Homo sapiens: one gene and its partners. The protein of the gene in region 3 interacts with the protein of the main gene of each other region in a biochemical or structural test. Each region holds a gene or a part of one and is shown on either strand. Other genes may lie near its edges.

Evidence for each region. The genes of interacting proteins can lie anywhere in the genome.
Region 1: the proteins of HNRNPF (region 3) and NCBP2 form a complex in vitro, tested with the Homo sapiens proteins (one study listed by BioGRID).
Region 2: the proteins of HNRNPF (region 3) and NCBP1 form a complex in vitro, tested with the Homo sapiens proteins (one study listed by BioGRID).

Annotation. Positions count from the first base shown.
Region 1 is NC_000003.12:196,934,893-196,939,547, forward strand, and holds the end of NCBP2 (nuclear cap-binding protein subunit 2), read right to left. Parts: intron 4,541-4,655; coding exon 4,359-4,540; intron 2,757-4,358; coding exon 2,618-2,756; intron 2,191-2,617; coding exon 2,119-2,190; 3' UTR 514-2,118; downstream 1-513. UniProt on the Homo sapiens protein: Component of the cap-binding complex (CBC), which binds co-transcriptionally to the 5' cap of pre-mRNAs and is involved in various processes such as pre-mRNA splicing, translation regulation, nonsense-mediated mRNA decay, RNA-mediated gene silencing (RNAi) by microRNAs (miRNAs) and mRNA export.
Region 2 is NC_000009.12:97,636,802-97,643,833, reverse strand, and holds part of NCBP1 (nuclear cap-binding protein subunit 1), read right to left. Parts: intron 3,041-7,032; coding exon 2,952-3,040; intron 2,273-2,951; coding exon 2,172-2,272; exon of another isoform or gene 2,166-2,171; coding exon of another isoform or gene 2,143-2,165; intron 631-2,142; coding exon 474-630; intron 1-473. UniProt on the Homo sapiens protein: Component of the cap-binding complex (CBC), which binds cotranscriptionally to the 5'-cap of pre-mRNAs and is involved in various processes such as pre-mRNA splicing, translation regulation, nonsense-mediated mRNA decay, RNA-mediated gene silencing (RNAi) by microRNAs (miRNAs) and mRNA export.
Region 3 is NC_000010.11:43,406,167-43,413,950, forward strand, and holds the start of HNRNPF (heterogeneous nuclear ribonucleoprotein F), read right to left. Parts: upstream 3,021-7,784; 5' UTR 2,965-3,020; exon of another isoform or gene 2,924-2,964; intron 2,692-2,923; exon of another isoform or gene 2,561-2,691; intron 1,613-2,560; exon of another isoform or gene 1,551-1,612; intron 1-1,550.

The DNA of each region.
Region 1 (4,655 bases), on a different chromosome or scaffold from region 3:
CTTCATCTTAGCTTGACTGAGAAACTGAATGTTTAATTCTCACACTTCACTAACATGTATTAATAGTGATGCCTTCATCTGTACGTTTGAATTTTCACTTTTCTCCGATTAAAGTGAGAAACAGGTCAGATGCTATCCATGAGAAATAGGAAAGAATGGTGCAGTAAAGAGACTCACATTTAGTGTTCTCTAGCCCAGGAAACATAAGATGTTCTTAATCCACCCACAATTTCCCTTCCCTTGCAATCATCCAGAGCATGTTTTTTGGAAAACTAACCTATTCTTCCATCAGTAGAGGTTGCTTGGTGCCTATTTGATCACTTTCACAAGAAAATCTGTGCGCTCTCTTCACACGCAGCAATAGTTATTTCCAACTGTCAGTCAATCAAAATGGACACGCGAATTGTCCACACTATTCATAGAATCCCCCTGGAACTCATTCATGTGTATCCAGAGTACAGGAATTCCAGAACACAACCCTCTTTATAGGCCAGGAAACAGGCAGCAACAACGATAAGTTCATCCAGCTTTATTGAAACCTATTACAGAAGACAATCCGAATAAAACCACTGTCTCCTGTAGAAATCTGAGTTATGTTGTTTTACTACAAAAGAATATAAAACACATTAAATTACAGTGTGAAGGAATTTTAAAAATGAACAGTGTATCCTCATTAAATGTTTGCAAAGTTTCTTCCTAAGCACTTACAACTAGTTACAGCTCTTTTAAAAATTCAGATTTCTACACTCAGTTTAACGGGAGAGACATTCACACTTAGGTACTTCAGCCCCAACTTTCACGGACTATTGGAAATTAGAAGGTACTTTGTTGCTAAGTGAAAAAAATGCACATTTTTTCATATCAGGGAAAATTATACTGGACTTAACAGTTTTAAATGAGCAATAACTCAGATATATTAGAGAGAAATCACCTCTTGCCTTACAAATACCAAATAAATTCCCTAGACTCCCCTCCCTGTAGAGACCATCAGCTCACTGTGAAGGCTTGAGCCTCAGTAGGTAAAATTTGAGGAAAAAAATGAGAAATGGCTAAAAGAGGCATCTGCTGCAGGAACCTTCTGTGACTGTCAAACATTCCCTCTTCAAGCTCCCTTTTAAAACCCAGTCCATTCCCAACATCACTGAAAATGAAAAGAATAAACTTGCTGGTCCTCATGTCAAGGCAGTGTTTTCATTGTCTCTTGATATTTTATCCCATTTCCTATTGACAACATCTCCCCTACCCCTGAAATTATTTAGAGGTTCCCTCTATGACAAACCCTTGCTTTTTTTTAGCTTTAGGTATAACACTGACATCTTTTGAAAAACGTGTTAGTAAATACTCAAGTTCTGGCCTCATTTCCTGATGTATGAAGCATGGAAGCAGTGCTGTCCTGTGGAGATTGCTTTTGCACCAACTACACAGGAAGGTCCTTGACCTCTAAGCATGCCTTTAGAGGTTAGAATTCACAGAAAACAAATTCAATTGTCAAACACCTGTTCCTAATTTTGTGCAAAGCAATACAACATAGCACAACTCCATTTGTTGTTTTTCGTTGTGCTTTGTAGAGACGGGGTCTTGCTATGTTGCCCAGTCTAGTCTCAAACTCCTGGCCTCAAGCTATCCTTCCTCCTCAGCCTCCCAAAGTGTTGGGATTACACGTGTGAGCCACCATGCCTGGCCCCACCTCCATTTATTAGGCTATCTCATGCAAACTTAAAATTAAAAAAATAATCCCAGGCCCCAATGTAGATCATGAACCTACTTAAGACTCATTATGGTAAAAACAAATTCTTACATTTTTCTGTCTTTCTAAAAGTGTAGTGGTTATGGCTAAAGACTAATCAACATTACAGATCCAATCTGTTGTCAAAGAACACAATTTCTGACCTGGTAACAAAATTGTTCTGATAATCTGACACATGGCCAAGATTCTCAGACAAGAATTAAAGGCATTCTTTTGGATTCTGTCCTTTAATAACTTTCAGAGGCTTCCAGCTCAGTAAAGACACTGATCAAATCTTGGTAAAAATGGGCTCGTGTGCAGACTTTAGGTGATGTTCTTCAGCAAATTCAACAGGCCAAAGGAGTGTTTGTCACTGACAGAGCTCTCACCACTCACTGGTTCTGTGCCAGTTTTCCATAGCCTCCTCTCCCAGCATCGTAGTCCTGCCGATACTCATCCCGAACCTTTAATGGAAAGAATCCAGAGTTACAGTATGGAAAAGAATGGTGTAACAAATATGCCTCCCACAAACATGTTAGACAAACAGTGAAACCTGTTCAGATGCCACAATGTGAACATTTCAAGCAGGACATATGCACTTCAGCTCACTTCAGTGCGTTTTGCTTTCATTTTAGATGTTCCTGCAGGTGGAAGATACCTAGCCCTAGCAGAAGTTCAAGAATGGTTGCTTGTTAGAAACGTACAGAACATACCATTTCACGGTTTAAAAAAAAAATTCACCCAAACCGTTGGGTGGTTTTCAGATCCACTTCAAGCCAAGGTTATAGACACAAAGTTATTTACAAAAGAGTAAATACAAATTGCCAAAACACCTGTCATTGTGACTGGAATCCCAGGCAATGGCTGAGCCCAGAGACCCTTCTTGCATACCTGGCCCCCAGATCGCCCACGGCCGTATTGCCTGCCCTCCTTAAAGCCTGCGTCCCAGTCTGTGCGAATGATTCGGTCATCCAGACGCGTCCCATTTATGTACCGCATGGCGTTTTCCGCATCTGCGCGTGAGTAATATCTTAAGTATTAAGGAACACTAGCATTTTTCCAAACATTTCTGGAAATAGGGGAACAACATGTAAATGAAGCTGAGTTGTTAAAAAGTACAAGAGCTAATCCAACCAGATGGAGTTCAAAGACAGTAATTCAGCTTGCCCAGGCCTGTTTGCGATTGGTTTGGAAGCACATAGAGTCAAATATGACACGTATCCATGGCTACACTGATCATATTTCTTGGACATTCCTGTTGATAATTTTTGGTCCCATCATCTCTGTATTTTGGTTTGCAAGTTTAGATCACTGTACACTTCTTATCCAAGAAACCAGTGCTGTATATTCAAGTTAGGTTCTGTACATTCCAAGGCACCCTAATCAAGAGAAGGTCACCGTGCACGTGGAATTGTGCTGCACTTCACTAAAGGAAAGACTCAAGCTGTCACCAAGGTAGCAGTTCCCAAACCTACTTCATCAGAGACCTCCCTTTAATTAAAGGGGAAGACATTTAATCTCAGACAAATAAAAATAAGACAACAGTGTTCTGAATAAACCATCTGGAGAAACTAGTATCTTTGATGTTAGCAAGCCAAAATAAAATCTCTTTTCATTCTAGCATTTGGGAAACCTGTGTATCCCCGAGGCAAGCCTGCAATCTGGGAGAGAAGCCCTGCCTGGGTCCAGTGAGTCAGCATTCTTTTCCTTAATTATGAGCAGAAATCCAGGGATCACCAGACACTTAAGGAAAAATTTCAACCGAAACAAACATAATTCAGGGCACAGGAAAAAATTCAAAAGATATATTAAATTGGGCCTGCAAAATTTCTCAGAATATTAAATTGAATGACCAAAACATACAGTAAAAAGAACATAGGATAAATCCAAGAGGTCCAATACTTAAAAGAGTCTGAGTAAGGGAATTAAATGATCAAAGTAAATAGTTTTGGTTTGTACCTATACAGTCAGGTTATATACATCTATATAATGAAATACTATACAGCTATTTACTTAAAAGTTTTTTTCTTTAAAGATGGGGTCTTAACCCGTCACCCCCGCTGGAACACAGTCACAACTCAGTGCAGCCTTGAAATCTTGGGCTCAACTGATCCTCCTGCCTCAGCTTCCTGAGCAGCTGGCACTACAAACACCAGCCACCATGCCCAGCTGTACAGCTATTTTAAAAAAAGACCTACATATGCTGAAATGGAACAATAAAAAATAAAAAAATGATTTTAAAAACAGCACATGAAATACACTACCGCACACCCACAGGGTTACTTCTTGAAAGACGCCCAAGAAACTGGTAACTGACTGCCTCTGGCAAAGGGCATTAGGGGTTTAGAACAGTACGAGATTTTTATATTTTCACTACATTCTTTGGAATTTTTTTTTTTTTACGTGAAGGGCAAACATTCTTGAAAAACTTTTTGTTAAAGAACCATAAAGCATGGATTTCAGAAGAGAATATAAATAGTATCAGCTTTACAGTATAAGGGCAGAGACACACTGGGTGGAAAGTAGGAGGGAGATGAAGGAAAACGTAGGGACGAGTGCAGGGACGCTTATGAGCTACCACTCTCAGCTCTACCCTGGTTCAGCAGCTACATTAGATCCATGGGAAGGATACTCCACAAAACAGAATCCACATGCTGTTTTCTTCATTTTATCCAGACCCATAATGATTTTCTTTATGTCACCACTTTTGCTGAAGAGTTCATAGATTTGTTCTTCAGTTGTGTAAAAAGAAAGATTTCCAACATATAACGTACAGCTTTTCTTCAGTAATTTTTCTTGTTCTTCATTGTCACCCTAGAATTTCAAATAGAGACAAAAGTTAAGCAACTTCAGAGCCTTGCTTAAATAGTATTTCTAAGTACGGTAGAGACATTCATTAATTCTGGTTTGGAAATCAACTTCTCTCATC
Region 2 (7,032 bases), on a different chromosome or scaffold from region 3:
AGGAAGGCATAAACTATGCTAGAGGCCCTGGAGACTAAGAAAGGACAGACTTGAGAGAAATTAGGGAGACAGAATTGACAGGGATTGGGAACACCTATGGTACGAGAGGGCAAAGGGAAGACAAAAATTAATGCTCAGCTTTCTAGATGGGTTATTCAGTACACAGTGGCCACTGTATGAGCTGGGGAGAGGGCAGAAAAAAGGAGGTATGAATGATGCATTAATTTAGGCACTTCCTAGTAAGGTATCTGAAGGCTATGCAGCTAGCATCTGGAATACTGGACTGGAGCTCAGGAGAAAGGTTGGAGATACAGTTACAGATTTGGGGGTATCGTCAAAATAAAGGTGGCTTATGAAGCTATGAAAGTGAATGAGAATGTTTTAGGAGAGCATTTTAAATTATTTGGTTGTAGTTCACCTTTTCCCTCCATCCCAACAGTAGTCATAACATACCAACAAACAAACTAACTTACCAAATACACGGCTTCATTATAATTGTTTGCTTTCAATGATTCTTTAAGTTGACGAATCATGGCTTCTACAAATTCTCCACCAAAATTGTAATTCCTGGCATTCAGTAGTCCAACTAATGTTGTATAAATTGTCAGCTTCTCAGGTAATAGGCGTGCACTGATTTAAGAACCCAGTATAACAAGAAAACCCCAAAACAATGGCGTTAAGTTGCTGAATTTTATGTGAATCTTTTTATCATTCCATTAACTTTGGAACAGGATTACTTTTAGCTATGTCTTTAAAAATACTTCAGAAAAAGCATGTCATTGAGAAATGTTACAGACATAGTCCCGTAATTTTTCATTTTAATTCATCAGTTAATCTAAGAGTTAAGAAAGTAAATGATTTAATTGTAAAGTTATCATACTGAAATAAATAAAACTAATGCTACAACAGTTTTTCTTCAAGTGTGCTTAGTGGAACTGAATAGCATTTCCACAGAACATGGTTTCCATGGTAAAATAGCTCAGAAATCCTGGGTGAAACAAGCCTCTTTAATACAGAATCATTAAGGGGGGGCGTGCAGCATTCAGAATTTCTAAACTTAGCTAACCAAATGTCATGGAACTAGAATTCTACTTTGAGAAACACTATTCTAGTTGTTTAGAAAAGATGCACAATTAAAACGAGTTTCATCTAAGTTCCTACCAGTTTAATTATTGAATTTTTTAAAAACATACTCTGATATAGTTAAGATTTGTTTACGTCTCAGTTGCTTACTCCAAGTGTGCTGATTTCATTAAAGTTATTTTAAAAGTATGGGAAAGGATTACAATAAACCTTTAGAAAAAGCAATTTTTCCTAATTTAGGCAGCCTTTAGAATTAGCTCAAAAAGCAATAAGAATTCATAATCATTAAGTGGGCAAGAGATTCTCTTTGACTTGTTTTCCTAAAGTACCTAGCAGAACATCAGGGACAATCAAGGTCTTCAAAAAAAATACCTGTGTTGATGGTAACTGTGGTCCCTGAAACCCTCCCAAAACCAAAAATTAAAAAAGAACACTGCGAAGCAATACAAGTTCAGCCTTAAACAAACAAGGCTTCCAACAGTTTAAGTGTAAATACTACTCCATTTTAATAAAGGATTTCAGAAGATTTCCTTAGTAGTTTCTTAAAGTTACCTTCACTTGATCTAAACTAAAAGGCTGAGAAGTGATAAACATCACCTTCATAATTTAAAAACACCTCATGGATACATTACAATTTCATGTAACTACAAAGACTCCCATTTATCCAGAGAGTATGCCTATTAACAGTGGCTTCCAAAGCATCTTCAGTCTTCCAAGAAGGGCTATTACCTGAGTTACCAATTCCCAAATTTGTCTGGTACTAATTTAAAAATGTAAGTATCATACATTTAAATGTACATGCTTAAAAATATATATCTGAATGAGACAGTATCTACTATCTCTATAAAAAGTCAACTAAAATGATTCTAAGGTTGTAAGAACATACAAGGAAAATGTTCAATTTTAGTTTTATCCCTAAGAAAAAGAGTTCGCCAAAGCGCCAAAGGTTGGCTCATTTGTACAAATTTCCCCATAGAAGTAAAGCCAAGGACATATAGAACATAAACATGTATTTTGAACATTTCCCAAAGCATTTAAGAGTAGATAATACATTATCACCTGGATTCATAAATCTTTTGCATACATACACTGTACAAAGAAGCCTTAAGATCTTGCTCTTGTAGTTAGGAAGATCAGCTTCCAAAACACCAGCCAAGCCTTCTAGGTTGCTCTCCAAAGAGCAGGCACTCTGTAGAGGACATCACATTAAATATCTGTCAAGTACTCAGCAACATAAATTTATTTTTAAAAATCTATTTAAATGTAAATATATACATATTTTAAAATCTATCATTTTAAAATCATTACCAATCATCTGTCCTTTCAATTGCTATTTTAGTGAACTAAAATAAAAACTTCTGCATGATCATTAAAATAGTCTTACATGCATACAGAGCTATAATGGGTTTAGTATAAATCAATTCAGATAGTTATTGTTCTTCAGAAATCCATGAAAAGTGGACGAGTGAAATTTAAAAACTAAGCAGTCTATGATAACAGAATAAGTATTAGAAATGGGAGGACACCATGGGCTCCATTTTACCTCTTTTACTAATTCACTCTCTTACTCTGGGCAAATTACCTCAAGTATTCAGGGCTGATTTAGTTCATGCATAAATTAAGGGGTCTATACCCTAGGTCCCTTCTAAGGGCTCATCTTCTATGAAAATTATTAATTACTAAAGTACTAAAAATGATCAATTATCTACATCCCAGGGGCTTCAACATGGATTCAATTTGGGATACAGATGCATGGTAATACCAGCTTTGCCAAAATGTAGTCCAACTTTTCAGCTGCAAAAATTAATCAAAGCACAGTTAACCACATTCTTAAACCCATCACAGCCTGTGCCTATTGTGTGACATACCTTTTCTCCTACTTTACATATTAAAGATTCCAAATGATCTTCAGTTTCATTTGCATCAGAGGTCTTTCTCCTTTTGTGAGGCTGCCCACCTATTTCAGCAACATAAAAAATTAACATTACATGATAAATCTGCTATCACAAATTTTATTTAACCTTTTTAGGTTATAATCTCTTTTCTACCAGGCCCTATGTTTTTACAGAGTAGAAGCTCTTCACAGACCCTCCATTTCTCAGACTAAGCTAGATTAACCAACAGCCTCCCATTCCCAGAGCCACTATATACAATAACTCCAGGAGGCATTATTTATGTTAAATTTTGTGTGAGTAGTGCCCATGGAGCTATGCAATCAGCAGCCCTGTCCATTTCTGTGGACAAGCTGGAAAGCTGCCAACAACATGTTAAACACTAGTAGTTAGAATACTCATGTACCGCTACTCCCATTCTTTTAACTTGAGTTGTTTACTGATCCTCAGTTGCTTGTTCCGAAACCTGTTAGTACCAGTAGTATTCATTAGTCTAATAATGTATTATGTAAATGACAAAATAAGGGTGCAAAACCAAGTCGAATGCTTTGGAAAGACTTGATCAGAAAAAAAAGCTGTCATATCAGCTATAAAGAGGAAAGCTTCAAAAGATGGGAAAAAGGAGCATAAAACATTAGGATTTCTCACTTGCTTCACATGTTTCTAAGCTCTAATCTCAAGTCTTCAATTAACAATTTCAGTTCTGCATATGATGCAGCACAACGGTATAGTTTATCCTAAATAATGGGAACGACAGTCAGTATACGTATATTCAAAGAAAAGTCCTGAGCACTATATCAAAAAATTGGTGGAAAAAAGGACCACGTTTTACAATTCCTGCTTTAACTAGCTTTTATTAACTGAATTACTGATAACTGCTTTATTTAAAAACCATATCATTCGAATAATCTCTATGTTTTTTAAATCTACCATTCTAAAATCATTACCAAGCATCTGTCTTTTTGATTGCTCAACAATTCAAGTTGAATGAAGGTGTGCTAAAAATTAACCTCAAACACCTGTCTATTAAGACCCTTGCTGTTTGTATCTCTTACCACTTTGTTTAAAGCCTTAACACACTCACCTAAGTCCTTTTGTGGTATAACATAAAGCTTAAAAAATTAAAATAATAGTGTTAAGTATGGAACCTGATGCTGCTGCTAAACACTTTGGCTAGTCTAATACAATCCAATTTTCGACTTCCATTGATTCAATTATTTGGTCGGCATATGGACAAGAAAGCAAGAGCCTGTAACTGTGCAGGGAATCGGTATTAATAATGAAAATCTGCAGTTGGATATATGGTTACACAGTAGCAAGTTACATATAACTTCAATCTTCAGATCTGAACAGCCAAAGGAATTATTGTTACAAAGTTCATAATCACTTACTTGCCTATGGAACACTTGGCTTGAAAATGATGTATGGTGATTCTCATAAAACACAGCACCTGGCTATTCTAAGCTTGGAATGTTAAATCTATTGAATGACTGAAATGATCTTCAGATACCACATGAACTGAAGCTGAATAAAACGAATCTATTACTATCCACATAGGATCTGAGGGGGGGTATTATAAAGGTTACAGGGTAAGACACTCTGTACGTCAACTTCCCAACCCATTAATTACCATGATAACCTGACTGAATGTCCACTGACTATAATTTTGAAAGGATAATGCCACAAAAAGTATAATACGCATGCAGCATGAGAGCTGAGATGTATTTATTCCTGGAGATATCTGCCTGTGTAAAGTTGTAGACATGTGTGGCACAGAGGTTCAGGGACCTTGATTCTTAAGTATAGATCAAACCTAAGTCACAGGACCTATCAAGGTTCCACCACCCAAAGTGCCAAATTTCACACAAAGGTCTTTCATTTCCAGGATTCACTTATTGAAAAAAAGCATAATTGATGTAATATTTACGCAAGCTGCCAGCTAGGACATTCAAATAGCCTTCTTCTACAGCAGTAGTTCTCAACAGGGTGTAGATTTTGCCCCCAGTGGTCATCTGGCAAACCTTGGAGACATTTTTAGTAGTCAAAACTAGGGGAAGCAACTGGCATCTAGTGGGTAGGGGCCAGGCATGCTGCTAAATATCTCACGTTGCATAGGGCATCTCCCAAAACAAATAACTGGCCAAGAATGTCAATAGTGCTGATGTTAAGAAACCGTATTCTAGAAAGCAGAGCTCCTCAGAACCAAATTTCAGTGAGGTTGGGAGAATGCAGATGCTGAAAAACTAGCTGAATGAGAGCAGTTATTTTTTGTTGCTGTTTTTTAAACCTTAAGCACACTGTTCCCTTCTTTCTGGCTCATCTATTTTGCCAACCCTTTATTCCACCTCTACAGTCTTCCTAACTTAACTTTCCAGCTGGCTTGTTCCAGTTTGGAATCATACCACAGCCTTTAAAGCAACCCTCCTAGGCCCTCTTATAAGCTTGAAAAGGGGAAAATAGTGCTGTGGGAAGAGAAGGTATGATTTCTGAGAAACAACTAGAAAATACATGTACATAGTCACATCTCTGAACTGCAAACCCTTTGTTCATTTTGGCTATATTAAAGGACAATATTTGTCTGGAGAATGGGAGGAGGCAGAAAGTATTAAGAGGTAAGAAATGTTCCACTTTCACCTGATAGTTGAGAGACTATAAAGGGGTGAAGACTACAGACAAAATCTGAACTTACGAACAGAAACATGATATTGAACTCATAAGACAACCTGGGTAAGGGAACAGGGAAATGAAATAAAACAATACGAATACAATTTGGGGAATTCGCTCAATGTACCCTGAAGAAAACGTATCTATGGTAGTTCCCAAGGCAAGAACAGATTTTTTATTAAAATTTAACTATGTAAAAGTTTTAAAATGTAAATTAAAGATAACATTACCACTTCACTCAGACAGACTTGGCTAGTATAGAGAAGCAGGTATAAAATCCATCTGAAAGGATCTTAATAAACCAAATAAATTTCCCCTCTATAAGTCAATCCTAATTTTATACGGGTACACTGTACATCTTATAGCCTTACAAGAAATTTTAGACCCACAAAATGGAAAACAAAAACCAACCCTGTAAAATAGAAAAGTAAAGTAACTAAAACCAACAACTTCAACATTACGTTTTTAAACCTTAAGCACACTGTTCCCTTCTTTTTGGCTCATCTATTTTGATATTGAACAACTTGAAAGATAACATGCCTTGAGCCCGCAGACTTAAAACAGGCAACCATCACTTCTGAAATAAACTATACTCTCTCAAAATAACAAATCCTTTCACTTCTATTTTTTTCTTTAGTTAAGTAAAAAAATCAGCCACAGTCCAAAAGACAAGGACCTAATTCTAAGAAGCTTAAATGGGGCTAATACAGCAAATCTGAAATTTTTGTAAATTGCCCAAATTCCCAAAATTGTATTCGTATTGTTTCTAGCTAAGATTTTGAACAATCTAAATACTTTCTTAAAAGAACAAACAATGGACTGCATATCCCATAGTAACTAAAAAGCTTCAGAGACATTTTTAAAGCAAGTCTAAGCAATTAGTTAAGATTTAGCACTGGACTAGTATCCATACACATTACTTTCCATTTAGCATTTCCTTTTCCTTGTTTATAAATGGACTACTACATGAACTTCATTGGTATAGCCTCCTAATCCTACCCCCCTTAATCTTTGATAGTCGAGTCTCAACACAGAAGTATAATTTTATAATCTCCCTATAAGATGCAACCCTCTGCTATCTCTCTAATCTTATCTCCTACAACTTCCCCCTCACTCACTCTGCTCCAGCACCACTGGCCTCCTTGCTCTTCTGTTAACATGACAGGAACCCTATAGTCTTCAGGCTTTTGTGCCCATGGTTACCTTTGGATCACAGCTTTTCCCCATACAGCTATATGGCTGCTACCTTACCTCCGGCAAGTCTTTGTTCAAATGCCATTCACACCGAAGCCTTCTCTAATCAACTTACATAAAATAGTAACTTCTCCCTCACAGAAATCTCTCCCCTCTTTACCTGGTATCACTCCATAGCGCCTGTCACTATATGATACAC
Region 3 (7,784 bases):
CAGTGGGGGAGAGGGAATTAGAGAAGTCACCTCCAAGGAAAGGGCCTGTCACATTTCTGCAGCCCCTGCAGGCATCTACCCCCACCGGGCTCTCATTTGCCTCCAGGCTTTCCAAGGTTCTGGCCACGTGGGAGAAGTAACTTTCTATTTACTCAGTCTTTTCCCTTAAATAAATTCCATTTTTTACCTGAATAAAGCTTTATAACGCTACCCTTAACAGAAAACTTGGCAGTTTACAAAAAAGTGGCCGGGCACGATGGCTCACGCCTGTAATCCCAGCACTTTGGGAGGCAGAGGCGTGAGAATCGCTTGAGCACAAAAGTTTGAAAATCAATCTGGGCAACATAAGGAGACCCCATCTCTACAAAAAATACAAAAATTTGCCGGGCGTGCTGGAGAGTGCCCGTGGTCCCAGATACTCGGCGGCTGAGGTGGGAGGATCCGTTGAGCACAGGAGGATCTCGGCAGCGAGCCGAGATCACACCATTGCACTCCAGCCTGGGCAACAAAGTGAGACCCTGTCTCAAAAAATAATACATATTTTTTTATAGAGACGGGGTAGGTCTCTGGGGCCCAAGCGATCCTCCCACACCTCGGCCTCCCTAAATGCTGGGATTACAGGCGTGAGCCACCTCGCCCGGCCGATAATGACTCTAATCTACAGAATGCACACCGGAATGTAATACCTACAAGGGAAAAGATCTTCTTGCTTAGGAATAAAGCAATCTCTCTCTTAATATTCATTAAAGTAGTAATGTCTTATTTTATAGTTTATAAATTCTGTGAGAGCAACGAGTCACTTTGCAGGAATAGCACTTAAGGTATCTTTCACCTACCTGGAGAACCCAAGAAATTTTCATCTTACTAGGAATTCAGAGACAACCACGTATTTAACTTTTAAAAATATAACTAAGTAGAAAGAATTATATGCGTGTATTTTTGGAAGAATTAAGATGACTTTTGGGACGGAACGACTGAAAACTACGCTTTCAGAACTCCCTGCCGCCTGAGGCTGTGGCCCTGACCCCGGCGCAGGGCCCGCCCCGCGCGGTTCCGGGAAGCCGCCGCCGCCGCCCGTTGCCCTTCGCGCGCAGCCGCCAGCGCGCGCCTCGCGTCCCGCCACGCAGATGGCCGGCCCGAGCCCCCAGCGCCCGCGAGCAGTTTCGAGAACTAAAGAGGCGCGTCAGCTCGTCCCCGGGCCGCCCGCGGGCAATGGCCGAGCTCGGCTCTCCTTCCACCCTCCGCCGGGACACACGCGGAGCCGAGCGGGGGTCCCAGGCGCCTAGGGGGAGGGGTTCCCGCGCCCGGGGCGGCCTTGGGGGGAGGGCGAGTCGGGTGCCTTGCTCCTCAAAACCCTGGTCCACGACTCTGCGGTTGGGGGAGCCGGGCAGCCGGCGCAGCAGGAGCCGGGCCCCGTCCACAAGTTTCCTACGAGCAGGGCGGAATCGACGAAAATACTTAATACAAACAAACAAAAGGAAAAAAAAAAGGACGACTAAGCTGAAGAGCGCGCACGAGTCAGATTTTCACCCCAAATACAAACACGATACCTCTAGGAGCAGGAGACCAATACAGGGACCGCGCTCCGAGGACACGCGGCGCAGCCGAGGAGGAAAAAGGGCCCGGGGCCGAGAGCTAAGGCTACGGGAACCGGGCGTGGGAGGAGGGCGGAGCCAACTCCCCACAAGGAAGTCTTGTGCAACTCTCAGGCGCCTGCAGCCACGTGAGCGCGCGGCTTTCATTTTACTCAGGTATTATTACTATTATTACTTCTTTTGAGACAAGGTCTCATTTCCGTCGCCCGGCTGGAATGCAGTGGCACAATCACTGTCACTGCAGCCTCGACCTCAGAGCAAGCGACCCTCCCGCCTCAGCCTCCCGAGTAGCTGGGACAACAGGCGCGCGCCACCACACGTGGCTAATTTTTTTTTCTTTACTTTTCAGTAGAGACAGTCTATGTTGCCCAGGCTTGTCGGGAACTCCTGGGCTCAAGAGATCCTCCCGGCTGGGCCTCCCACTGCGCCAGGCCTGTTCTCACTTTCAGAGCCCTCCGGCAGTCGCCAGCTCCCCGCCAGGGGGCCGGACTAACGCACCCGGCCGTCCGTGCCTTCCCCGCGCTTTCCTGACTCCAAAATCTCAGCCCGCGGTGCTCACCGCGTGGGACCACTGTCTGGGCGTGCGGCTCTCGACCTCCGACGCTGCGTCTCCCGATCCCAGTGGGTCCAGTTCTTGCCGGTCCCACGTACGGGCCCCTCGACCTCGAATCCCGTCACCCAAATCTCAGCGCCACGGCCCCTCATTATGTGCAGTCCTCGCTCGGTCCCAGGTTTGCGGCGCTTAAACTCAGATCGCTCTTCCCTGATCCCAAATCCCAGCCCCAGCCCAACGATCCCCACCCCAATAGGCCCAGTCCCCAGGTAGTCCGGGTACGGGGCCCTGGACTTCGGATAGTCTCCCTAATCTCAAATCCCACCCCCCGTCCCCACCCCCAGGGGGACCCGGTCCCCGCTAGGTCCCGGGTGTGCGGCCTTCGACCTCGGAGACTTCGGCCGCCCCTCACCTCGGCCTCCGAGTCTCTACACTCCCGCTCTCATATCAGGCACCCCGGTGGTCCCTTGGAGCACCTAGAGGAGGGTGGGACGCGGGGAACTTGGCAGTTGTAGCAGAGGCAGTTGAGGCTTGTTGACCATCACCATGGAAACCCCCGCCTGCGAGCACGGGGCGGAGCCTACGAGGGGCGGGGTCAGGCGCGCTGCCGGCCCCAATCCTCAGCGCCTGCCCGTCGAGCGCACGCGGCTTTGCCGGAAGCCCTCCTGCTCCCGGCGAGCCAGGCCCCGACTAGGCCCTACTGCCCGGCTCAGCCCTTTGCCCTGGACACCAGGAAACAGAAGCCCAAGGAGCCCGCGTCCCCACCCCCTGCTACCTGCCGGCGTGACAGCGATTCGGTGGCCCCCCGAACCCCACCTTGAGGAAGACGCGGCGCAGTCCTGCTTCCACGACGGAGCCGGAAGGACGCAAGGACCGCGGCAGGGCGGAGTTTCTGCGTCCGGCGTCCGGGGGCGGGGCCGCGACGGCGCATTGTGACGCGCCAGAGCTGAGCCGCCGGTTGGCCGGCTGGGCGCGGAGCAGAGCCGACACGGCTGGCGGGGGAGGCGGTGGAGGCGGACAAGCGAGGACGTTTCTGGAGAGGAGAAGGGAGGGGAGGGGAGGGGATAGGGGGAGGGGGAGGAGGAGGAGGGAGTGGAGCGGCGGGAAAGATCCCTCTGACTGCCCCTGAGGCCCTGGAGGAAGGACACTGGTGAGCCCCGCAGGACACTGAAATGTGCGCCGAAAGGACGCCTGATGGAAGACTAGGATGGGAAAAGGAAATGAGAGCCGATGGCAGGGCGTGGTGGCGCAAGCCTGTGGTCCCAGTAATTTGGGAGGCTAAGGCGGGAGAATCGCTTGAGCCCGGGAGGTCGAGGCTGCAGTGATCCGTGACTGCTCCATTGCGTCCAGCCTGGGCGACAGAGCGAGGCGCTGTCTCAAAAAATAAAATAAGGAAAGTAGTACACTGAAGGCCGGGCGCGGTGGCTCACGCCTGTAATCCCACCACTTTGGGAGGCCGAGGCGGACGGATCAGGCGGTCGGGAAATCGAGACCATCCTGGCCAACATAGTGAAACCCCTACTAAAATACAAAAAAATTAGCCAGGCGTGGTGGCGCGCGCTTGTAGTCCCAGCCACTCGGGTGGCTGAGGCAGGGGAATCGCTTGAACCCGGGAGGCGGAGCTTGCGTGAGCCGAGATCGCGCCACTGCACTCCAGCCTAGCGACAGAGCGAGACTACGTCTCAAAGAAAAAAAAAAAAAAAAGGTACACTGAGTACTCCGGAGACCGCCTAAAGGGGTCTCAGAGCAGGGCGTTAGGAGGGATTTGTCAGGTTGAAGTTGCTCAGGTGATAAATTCCGTGGTGTGAGAAGCCCCCAAACCTCAGAATGTAACTCAGACCCAGGTCGAGGGCAAGATTTTCAGTCACAGAGCACCTGAACACACAGATTTGGTGGCTAATGGCTAAGCCAGGGACAGATTTTCTTTCTTTTCTTTTTTTTTTTGATGTATTGTAGGGCTAATAATTGTAACCATTTTATTTTGGTGGATCTTCTTCATGAAGAGATGATGTCAAGGCACTCATCACAGGTTAAGCTGAACATTGTTACTATTGTTATTATTTCCAGACTGAGTATCGCCCTGTCATTCAGGCGGGAGTGCAGTGGTACAATCACGGCTCACTGCAGCCTCGACCTCCTGGGCTCAAGCGATCCTCCTGCCTCAACCTCCTGAGTAGCACCACCACTCTCGGCTAAATTTTGTATTTTTTGTAGAGGCGAGGTTTCGCTGTGTTGCCCGGGCTGGTCGGGAACTCCTGGACTCAAGCCATCCGCCCACCTACGCCTCCCAGAGTGTTGGGATTACTGGATTGAGCCACGCATCTGGCTGAACGTTATTTTTTAAATCACCAGAGAAAGTAAAGGAGTGCTCAAAATAGTGTCAGATGATGAGTGGGATGATTGTGATGAAGGAAGGAGTTTGTTAAAAGAAAAAGCTAGTTCCAAGAAAGAGAATGGAAAGAGTAAAGCAGGAGCTGTCAGAATAGGTAAAAATGTCCAAAGAGAAAACTGCATAATTTGAGGCAAAATTACAGAAAATAGTTCCTGCAAAAATCAGATAGGTATTCAGCATCATAGGAAAGGGGCGAAAATCAGATAGGTAGGTATTCTTAAGAAGTTGTGGCCGGCCGGGCGCGGTGGCTCGCGCCTGTAATCCCAAGACTTTGGGAGGCCGAGGTGGGTGGATCACCTGAGGTTAGGCGTTTGAGACCAGCCTGGGCAACATGGCGAAACCCTGTCTCTACTAAAAATACAAAAAAAAATTAGCCGGGCGTGTTGGCGCGTACCTGTAGTCCCATCTACCCTGGAGGCTGAGGCAGGAGAATCGCTTGAATCCAGGAGGTGATGGTTGCAGTGAGCCGAGATTGCACCATTGCCCTCCAGCCTGGGTAACAAGAGCGAAACTCTGTCTCAAAAAAAAAAAAAAAGTCATACAGTGACTGCATCACAGCTCATGCTGTAGAAAGATGTTTCTGGAGAGAAAAATTCAAGTAGCCAATTTAAATCGAATATTAGGAAAATTAAACCAAAAGGGCTCACGCCTGTAATCCTAGCACTTTGGGAAGCCGAGTCAGGCGGATTACCTGAGGTCAGGAGTTCAAGACCATCCTGGCCAACATGGTGAAACCCTGTCTCTACTAAAAATACAAAAATTAGCCGGGCGTGGTGGCACATGCCTGTAATCTCAGCTACTCAGGAGGGTGAGGCAGGAGAATTGCTTGAGCCCAGGAGATGGAGGTTGCAGTGAGCCAAGATTTTGCCACTGCACTCTAGCCTGGCCGACAGAGCAAGACTCTGTCTCAAAAAAAAAAAAAGAAAGAAAATTAAACCAAAAGACTAGTAATGCTTCAGAAATTAGGGACTGTTAAACCAGCTGCAAGAAGATATATTCATGCAATCTTTGTATTAAGAGTCTCTCTGGCTGGGTGCGGTGACTCAGACCTGTAATCCCAGCACTTTGGGAGGCCAAGGCCAGTGGATTGCTTGAGCCCTGGAGTTCAAGACCAGCCTGGGGAACATAGTGAGACCCAGTCTGTATTTTAAAAGTTAAAAAAAAAAAAAAGCCTCTAAGCTAAGTGGACCTTTGATCCCCTCACTCAAATTTGACAGTTCTCCATTATTCATAAATGAGGTAATAGTTGTTGGAGACGGTCTTCTCTGAATGCAAGACTAGTACTTTGGCCTGATTATAGAACTTCCTGCCGTCCTAAGGAGTCATCCCAGGTGTCCACTATATCTTTTTCAGCATTGAGTACCAGCACAGTCACATGTAGGCTTTATCCCACAGTGAAGACTTGGCATCACTCAGAATGATGCCACAGGTCCTAGGCCTTTTCCACACTGGGCTCACTTCACCAACTCGCAAATGCTCATCCACACCTGGTCCACCTGGACTACCTCCTTATCTGTAGCCCTTTCACCTCTGTGTCCATAGAAATGTCTTACCTAAGCTCTGAAATCTAAACATTCAGAGAGCACCTTGATGCTTGAGAGCATCTACACAGAGATGAACCTTTAAGATCTATGGTTTAAAACAATTGAATTCCAAGATGTTGCCCCTTACAGACTGACCTGCCTGATTATTTCCTGTTGTTTATGTACATTGATTATTATCAAAAACTTAATACTTTATTTTTTTTGAGACGGAGTCTCGCTCTGTCGCCCAGGCTGGAGTGCAGTGGTGCGATCTCAGCTCACTGCAAGCTTCTCCTCCCGGGTTCACGCCATGCTCCTGCCTCAGCCTCCCGAGTAGCTGGGACTACAGGCGCCCACCACGGCGCCTGGCAAATTTTTTTTTATTTTTAGCAGAGACAGGTTTTCACCGTGTTAGCCAGGATGGTGTCAATCTCCTGACCTCGTGATCCGCCCGCCTCGGCCTCCCAAAGTGCTGGGATTACAGGCGTGAGCCACCGCGCCCAGCCAAAAACTTAATAGTTTTTAATAAATATTGTCAGGTTTTTTTTTTTTTTTTTTTTTGAGACGGAGTTTTGCTCTTGTCACCCAGGCTGGAATGCAATGGCACGATCTTGGCTCACCGCACCCTCCACCTCCCAGGTTCAAGCGATTCTCCTGCCTCAGCCTCCCGAGTAGCTGGGATTAGAGGTGCCCACCACCAGGCCCGGCTAATTTTTGTATTTTTAGTAGACACGGGGTTTCGCCTTGTTGGCCAGGCTAGCCTTGAACTCCTGACCTCATGATCCACCCGCCTCCGCCTCTCAAAGTGCTGGGATTACAGGCGTGAGCCACCGCGCCTGGCCAATATTGTCAGTTTTAAAAAATAAGTTCCCCTCTAGACACTACTTATCCATACAATTGGTTACAGGTTTGGAGCGTTACAGAGGTTTTTAAATCTTCTACTCAGTAGTTCTTGAAAAATCACCTTACCTATTAAGCTGAGATTCCCCCTTCCCGCAAGACGGTGCCATTAAGTAGGCAGGGATCACCAAGGTTCAGAGATGTCTCTTGCTCAAAAATCATAGTATCTGTTAAATAGCAATAACCGTAGCTAACACATACTGCATTCTCACTATGCTTTGTGCTATTCTACTTAATCCCACTGAAACCTGGTAACAACCCTGCAGTAGATACTACCACCATTTGGCGGAAAGAAACTGAGTCACCCAGCTTCTAGATGGCTGAGCTGGAAGTTGTATGGAGGCTGGAGGCCCCATCTGATTCCAGGGTCCGTTCTCAACTACTGCAATCTAGATCCTAGCGAGAAACGGGCTTTTCAGGCTGTCTCCTCCCTTTCCCATCTGAGAGGAGAATGAAGGAAGTGAGAAAGCCAACTGACCTGTCTAGTCAGTATAGGCCCTGTCTAAATGTCACTTTTCTCCTTGAAGCGAGGTGCTCTAGGAGGCAGAGATAACCCAGGTGGGAAGAGGCACATTCGGCAGTGACAGCCTTGTCTGGTTAATTTTCATGACCAATATAGAAAAGTGCAACTTTGAGGCCGGGCACGGTGGCTCACGCCTGTAATCCCAGCACTTCGGGAGGCCGAGGCCGGCGAATCACGAGGTCAGGAGATTGAGACCATCCTGGCTAACACGGTGAAACCGTGTCTCTACTAAAAATACAAAAAATTAGCCAGGTGAGGTGGCGGGTGCCTGTAGTCCCAGCTACTCGGGAGGCTGAGG